Homo sapiens: one gene and its partner. The protein of the gene in region 2 purifies or fractionates together with the protein of the main gene of each other region. This does not show direct contact. Each region holds a gene or a part of one and is shown on either strand. Other genes may lie near its edges.

Evidence for each region.
Region 1: the proteins of IDI1 (region 2) and NSDHL purify together in Homo sapiens (affinity purification with mass spectrometry; one large-scale study listed by BioGRID and IntAct). This does not show direct contact.

Annotation. Positions count from the first base shown.
Region 1 is NC_000023.11:152,847,965-152,851,789, reverse strand, and holds part of NSDHL (sterol-4-alpha-carboxylate 3-dehydrogenase, decarboxylating), read right to left. Parts: intron 1,526-3,825; coding exon 1,367-1,525; intron 1-1,366. UniProt on the Homo sapiens protein: Catalyzes the NAD(P)(+)-dependent oxidative decarboxylation of the C4 methyl groups of 4-alpha-carboxysterols in post-squalene cholesterol biosynthesis. Also plays a role in the regulation of the endocytic trafficking of EGFR.
Region 2 is NC_000010.11:1,039,062-1,042,886, reverse strand, and holds the end of IDI1 (isopentenyl-diphosphate Delta-isomerase 1), read left to right. Parts: intron 1-124; coding exon 125-255; intron 256-1,382; coding exon 1,383-1,700; 3' UTR 1,701-3,468; downstream 3,469-3,825. UniProt on the Homo sapiens protein: Catalyzes the 1,3-allylic rearrangement of the homoallylic substrate isopentenyl (IPP) to its highly electrophilic allylic isomer, dimethylallyl diphosphate (DMAPP).

The DNA of each region.
Region 1 (3,825 bases), on a different chromosome or scaffold from region 2:
GAAATGATGTGGAGTCACTGGGAAGGGGAGCAGGCGGCTGTGGGTGGCCACCACAAGGAGGGAACGGTGTCGGGGTTTGTACAGTCTGAGGGTATCCTCTTCAAAGCTGGAGAGGCTTAGAGCAGCATGAGGGAGAACGGTTCGGAGGCAGCAATGATGAGCATGAAAGATGTCTACCCCATCTCCAGGCCTGGAGGTGTGGGCAGCACGGGAGAGAAAACAACCGTAACTTTGCAGCGGAAGCAATGGCCTTAATATTTCATCAACAAACCATATAGCGAATGACACCAAAGCCAAGAATAAGGGCCCAGTGACAGGCTGAGGGAAGCCATCCATAATAAGTACAACGGGCACAGGATTGGCATCCCAACTAGATCAACAAGGAAGCAAAGGTAACCCCAAAGACAAAGGGGCAAAGGACACAGACAAACATTTCACACAGGAGGAAGCCTGAAAGCCGATCACCCAGTGGCAGAGTGGCTGGTTACTTGGTCAGGGAGGACATGTGACTCTGAACATCAGTGAAGCACCACTTCATACTTCTCAGAATGGCAACACCAAAAAGTCTAGTTATGCCCAGTGTTGGCAAAGATGTGAAGCAATGGGGCTTGTGCCACATTGTGGATATGGAGGTAAAATTGACATAGCAGCTTTGCTGAGCCATTTGGCACCATCTAATAAAATTCAAGATATTCATACCTGTACAACATGGATGAAGCTTGAAAACATCATGCTAAGTGAAAAAAGTCAGGCACAGAGGTACAAATATTACATGATTCCATTTATATGAAATGTCCAGAAGAGGCCAATCCATAGATGGGAAGTAGATGAGTGGCGGCCAGGGGCTGGGAGGGGAAGAGAGGGGATGGCTACAAGATTTCATTTTGGGGTAATACAAATATTCTGGAGTTAGATCATGGGAGACAGTTGCACAGCTTTGTGGATGTACTGAAAATCACTGAATTGCACACTTTAAAAATGTGAAATTTGTGGTACATGAATTATATCTCAATTAAAAAATCAAGACCCTGTGGCCCAGCACACACTTGTTTTGCAGTTGGAACAATACAGCCCATGGACGGCTTTTGAAGTCAAGTTTCACTGGCATACAGCCACAGCCATTTGTTCATTTAAGTGCTGACCATGGCTGCTTTTGTGCTACCAGGACACAGCTGAGTATCTGTGACAGAGATGATGGTTATTCATTCTAAGCAGTAAGAATGTGGTGTTCTTTCCTATAACTTTGAAAATTTTCACAATGAAACAATTGTTTTTCAAACAAATTGGCTGGCTTCTGAGCAAGGGAAGTATCGTGGTTTCCCTTCGTGGGCTCGTGGGAAATCAGCAAGGCTGCATGGTCCATTACCTGTCGGCTGCAGAGGTCACCCAGAAAGAACCGCACCTGGGGATTATCAAACCCTTGCTGGATATCAAATACATTGACAGCATATCCTCTTGCCAGCAACTGCTCCACCATGTGCTGCCCCAGGAATCCAGAGCCACCGATCACTGTGCATCTCTTGGCCTGTGGAAAGAGAGGAACGGTGGGGAAGACCAGGGTAGTGAGGACTGGAAGCTACAGAGTCCAGACTTACATATCATGAGCCACTGCAATGGCAGATATACTTGTTTGTTTGGAACTCTTCTTGAGCCAAGTTGGAAGCTTTATATCATCCTGGTGTTCCATCACTAGTGCAACCCTAACCTTCTCTCCTGGGATCAGTAAGGAGGGAAGAGAGATAGCGAATGACACTGAGATTGACTTTGGTTGGGTTTGATGACAAGATCCATGCTTTGTATTCAGTGAAAGGAAATCAAACCACCTATGACCAAAACTGGACAATCTAAAAAATACCCCAAAAAACAGTGATACCTTCTTGTTCCCGATAGCTGATCCCTGGGCGCTTCTCTAAGGACAAAACAAAACAAAACAAAACGGCAGCCATTTGGTAGCTGATAGCTTGCACTGAAAACAACAGAAAGAAGAAAGCAGTCTCCATACTTGCAGGACAAAGTCAGTCCCTTTCCCTCTCTGGCCACAACAGGGCTGGGCTGTGTGGCTCTGGGCTCATCGCCCAACCCCTTCTTGCCTCAGCCTAGAAATCTAAGACCGCCTTGATGGGATCTCCTGGTGGGGCTGCAGTGAGGATGGATGAGCCCAGGGCTCTGCTTTCCCTCCTCCGAACTACAAGGAAGTTGAAGAAATGGGGAGAGCCATGGTGTTTATGTCTCAGCCTCCACAACACACACGATTCCTTGGGTAATTCCAACTCTGGTGACTGGGCATAATGAAAGGACACAGTAGCACATGCAGGCACTTAAATACCCTCATTTCAGGATGTTGATGCCAAACTGTGGCTGCTGCACACCAGACAAGCTGGCTATGGGTGTCTGTGAGGAGGACCTGTGATATCCCTCCTCCCTAGGGTCTTTCTAAAACTGTATCTGGGCCTCCTTAAGATGACAACCTCCAATTTCCTTAGCTCATATACAGTAAATCCAACTTGGGTTTGTGGAAATGAAAGATCTTAAAGAAATTATGTTCTAGATTTAAAAAACAAACAAATCTCCCTACTTATTCCTTAAACATCAACACAATTGAGCTATGCAAGAGACTCAAGGGATGCCAGGGCCAGACATCCTCTCTAGATCCACCTCCCTCCCAGTTGGGGTGTCCCATCTGAAACAGCACTCATACTGGATTCCACCAGGCCCAGCTGGAGCTGGCACTGTACTTTACCTTCATCTGTCCATGTGCAATCTACTAACAAAATCAGCCTCACCATTCTTCTACCACCCAAAACTAACTTCCCAACCTGTTCTTTTCTAGGCTTTATTCTGATTATTCCTAAACACATGTAATCATACCAGGTTACATGATTTGCACCTGGACTGAGATGTATATTTCCTCAAGTCATAGCCAAATTAAATACAAAACTCACATCAATCCCTTTTCTAGCAATCCCTTTCTTCTCCCCTCCTCCCAAGTCAGCTGTACAGGCAAACTGTAGCTATTTAGAATAACTCTGAGCTGCCTGTTTCCCAACCTGGATTTCTGCAGTTTACTAAAAGTCTGGCTAAGCCCAAAGACAGTCAGAACTAGATATGTTACTAAAGCATCCTGAAAGATTTCAGACTGCCTTGTTTATTTCATTTGGCATCTCTAGTTACAGGTGTTTCAAAAGGTTGCTAATCTCTTCAAAAAACAACCTTGCTGTTAGTCCAGTGTGATTTCATTTCACGATTTTAATTGTGACTAATCAGTACGCTACTCTTGGACAATGTGACGTGGATTATTTTATGATATTGAAATGTTCTATCAATAATGTTTGGGATGAGTAGGCCAATGGCTGTTCCCTGGAGACCCTTGTAGTGATGGGAATCAAACTGGCCTTTACCCCAGGGAAGTCAAATGTGTGATAATCATACCTATAATGCTGTGTGATTACAGGAGATCACATGAAACTTTTCATGACCACTTTTTACTTCTCACAGCCACAGTGGACAAGAATGAACATGTACTAACAATCAAGTATAAAACTCAAGACTGGAAACAGCAAGACTCCATAATGGGTTACTGAGGTGAGTTATAAGATCAACCTCTTGGAGACAGTGTTAAGAATAGGGGCCAGGCACGGTGGCTCATGCCTGTAATCCCAGCATTTTGGGAGGCCAAGGTGGGTAGATCACCTGAGGTCAGGGGTTCGAGACCAGCCTGGCCAACATGGTGAAATCCCGTCTCTACTAAAAATACAAAAAATTAGCCAGGTGTGGTGGTAGGCGCCTGTAGTCCCAGCTACTCAGGAGGCTGAGGAGGGAGAATTG
Region 2 (3,825 bases):
ATTATAACTGATTTTAAAATCCTTAAAAATCATTTCATTTTTCAGTTACTTATAAAACTTTTTCTTGATCTTTCAGACCTACTTTGAAGAAAAGTTGATCTGTCTCTGTATTACCATTTTCCAGGTTGTTTTACGAATACGTGTTGTAGTCATCCATTAAGCAATCCAGCCGAGCTTGAGGAAAGTGACGCCCTTGGAGTGAGGCGAGCAGCACAGAGACGGCTGAAAGCTGAGCTAGGAATTCCCTTGGAAGAGGTAACCAGCTCTCCTACACAACCATACAAGCTGAAACCTAAACATACTATAAAAAGGTTTTTAATAAAATTTTTAAATTCAAATGTAGTTCTCTGCTTGGTAACCTCCGGAGTTATGAGTTAGCCCCACAAACCATCTTGAATAAAGATTATTTAAATTTTAATTTCTTAATATCACTTGTCAAAACTTAGCTCAATACGGGGATGGATTGATCTGTTAAGCACTATATAAGGTTGAATATTTCTATAATTGATCAAATCTAAGATGAGTATTTTCAAGTGTTACAGCTCTTGTAGAATTTAACTGACAGGTTTTCCAGTTCTCACCTAAAACTCCCCACCTACAAAAAAGGTGAAGATTTTCTGATGGAAACTCTTAGGAATATGAACCATAAATCTCATTGGTTTAATTGAAATCATTTTTTTTCTTGGAATTGTCCCCCTTAAATAAGACCTGGATAAATAAAGTATTTCTTATCTATATTTTCCAAAAAGCAATTTTAAAATATGAAAAAGAAAAATGTCGGGCCGGTCGTGGTGGCTCACGCCTGTAATCCCAGCACTTTGGGAGGCTGAGGCAGGTGGATCACGAGGTCAGGAGTTCGAGACCAGCCTGACCAACATGGTGAAACTCCGTCTCTACTAAAAATACAAAAACTAGCTGGGCATGGTGGGGCGGCACGTCTGTAATCCCAGCTACTCAGGAGGCTGAGGCAGGAGAATCGCTTGAACCTGGGAGGCGGAGGTTGCAGTGAGCTGAGATCACACCATTGCACTCCAGCTTGGGTGACAGCAAGACTCCGTCTCACAAAAAAAAAAAAAAGAAGAAAAAGAAGAATGTCACATTTCTAGTTTGAGTGACTGCCCCTTTTTTTAACATTAAAAAAAAAAAAACTTATCTGATCGGGAAAAAAACGCAAACACTTGAAACTAATGATGTAATCATTTTTCCATATATAATATTAAGATTTCCATATACCATTGATAGGAGATTAATGCTTTAACCAAGTTCTAATCCTAAAACTATACTGCTGTTCGAGATATCGCTGTAATACAGTGAGCTAATTTTAGATTTTTTTTGTTACGGTGGCCGATGTTTTAATTACTTTTTTTTTTTTAATGTCTTAGGTTCCTCCAGAAGAAATTAATTATTTAACACGAATTCACTACAAAGCTCAGTCTGATGGTATCTGGGGTGAACATGAAATTGATTACATTTTGTTGGTGAGGAAGAATGTAACTTTGAATCCAGATCCCAATGAGATTAAAAGCTATTGTTATGTGTCAAAGGAAGAACTAAAAGAACTTCTGAAAAAAGCAGCCAGTGGTGAAATTAAGATAACGCCATGGTTTAAAATTATTGCAGCGACTTTTCTCTTTAAATGGTGGGATAACTTAAATCATTTGAATCAGTTTGTTGACCATGAGAAAATATACAGAATGTGAATATGTAGGTAAATGATTACAGAAAAATTTATCTGCTTAACAAACTTAGAATGACTTTTTCCTTTTAAATTTAGTTCTATCATTAATTTATCATTAAATTTAGTTCTATCATTTGGTACTATCATTAATGTATTATATACACTGATACTTTAAAACTTGTGTGGAAAAAACTAACTTATAATTTTGTATCACACACCCTGGATATGTGTTCTGTTTCTAAGCGACATTTGTGAGAGATTATTGTAAAATGAGAGCGAGCAAATAAAACTTAATTTAATCTTTGCAGATACATACTTATGGGAAATTTGAACAAATGAGTGAAACTCTGTTTTTAGTAGGCTGTGATAAACATTTCCGGAGCACTTGCAGAGGACTTGCTATTTGCCAGGTGCTTTATGTATCATTAAATTTTTCTCATAGTTCAGAAAAATGTGCAAAGGAAACTATTGTCTCGCTCCTTCAAAACAGTCTTAATTAACTTTCATATTAGCAGATTAAACTAGCAGAGCAGGTTCAAGGGAAATTAAATGATATGGACCCTAATTTGTATCATTCTGAGTTGATTGTGTGGTTTATTCATTCTGGAAACATGTTGATACTTACAGTCAGCCACTGCTTTTGATAAGTGATATTGATTAGGTTGAATCTTCTTGTAAATAGTATTTACCAGTTAGCAAAGTCTGTGTTTTCAGAATTACAGTGAGCACAGAGGTGTTCATAAAATGGGAATTGAGTCCCACTCGGTAAGAGTTGCTTAAACTTGACACTGTTGACATTTGGGCTGGATAAAACCCCTGTGGTGGGGTCTGTGCTGTGCATTGCAGGATGGTGAGCAGCGTCCCTCTCATGTGACACCCACAGTTATGCCGGATGTTGCCAGATGCCCCTAGGGGACAGAGTCAACCCCCAACTGAGGACCACTGTCCTACAGAGTCAGGAAATATTGTAGGGAGAAAAAAATAACAACAACAAAGGCCTGTGTTAATGTTAAATAGATGAGATTATGGAATGTGTATATTAATGTTAAAAATTGTACCTTGATCAATGTACTTTTTATAAACTTGCCATAGATATCTCAGATTTGAAACCTCAAGACAGATTTATTATTCTTAAATGCTGTATGATAATGAAGAAAAATAAAAATTTATTTCTTGCAAAGTTAAATGTTTGTTAAATTCAATAGAATGACTCATTTATGGTTAACTTTGGGCAATTTATAATTTCAGACAAGACTGTTTAGCAAGTATTTTATTGAAAAGTAAAAAAAATTGCAATTTAATACTGTGTTTAGTTTGTTAAAATTTTGATACACTAATAGGATATTGCCTGTATAGTTTCCGTTGCATTTATAATATTGTTTCTAATTTTTTTAGTTTTATTTTCTAGGAAGTTTTAGGCTGAAAGCCACATATAATTAGTTATGTGATAACTATGAGTTGCCATGGCTACTGAATTGGACATGGGACCCTTAGACTGCTACCCAGCACCTTGTTAAGTACTTAGCAAGAGTTAGATACTACTGTTGTAATATTACTAGGATGCCATCCAGAAAATGTAAGGAATGTCTTTTGACCTGATAAACTCCTTAGAACTCCTTCATCTTTTATAAAGAGGAGTATCCCTCTCCTAGATATAGCTGCTTCTGACCCCAAAGGCAGATGTGTTGGTTTTCAACTAGAAAGCTAAATGGTACCTATAAATTTTTTTTTTCTTAAACTGTTTTAAACTCTTAATCTTCAAAATATATACTTCTTTGATTCTGGTCAAACCATTGCCAACTCCTTTAAGGACAAAGTAGAGGTGGCCTTCTAATAATTGCTGATTCTGTTTCCCTACCTATATTATCAAGAGAACAAGACCAAAACAGAAAATGGTATAATAGGAAGGAAGGCACATTTTCTTCTTACTTGGCCCTGGCACCTGGGGACAAGTCCAGGTCGTACCCGCAGTGCATCCCTGTGGGAACTGCCCTCCACCTGCTCCCTGGGGACACGTCCAGGTCGTACCCGCAGTGCGTCCCTGTGGGAACTGCCCTCCACCTGCTCCCTGGGGACAAGTCCAGGTCGTACCCGCAGTGCGTCCCTGTGGGAACTGCCCTCCACCTGCTCCCTGGGGACAAGTCCAG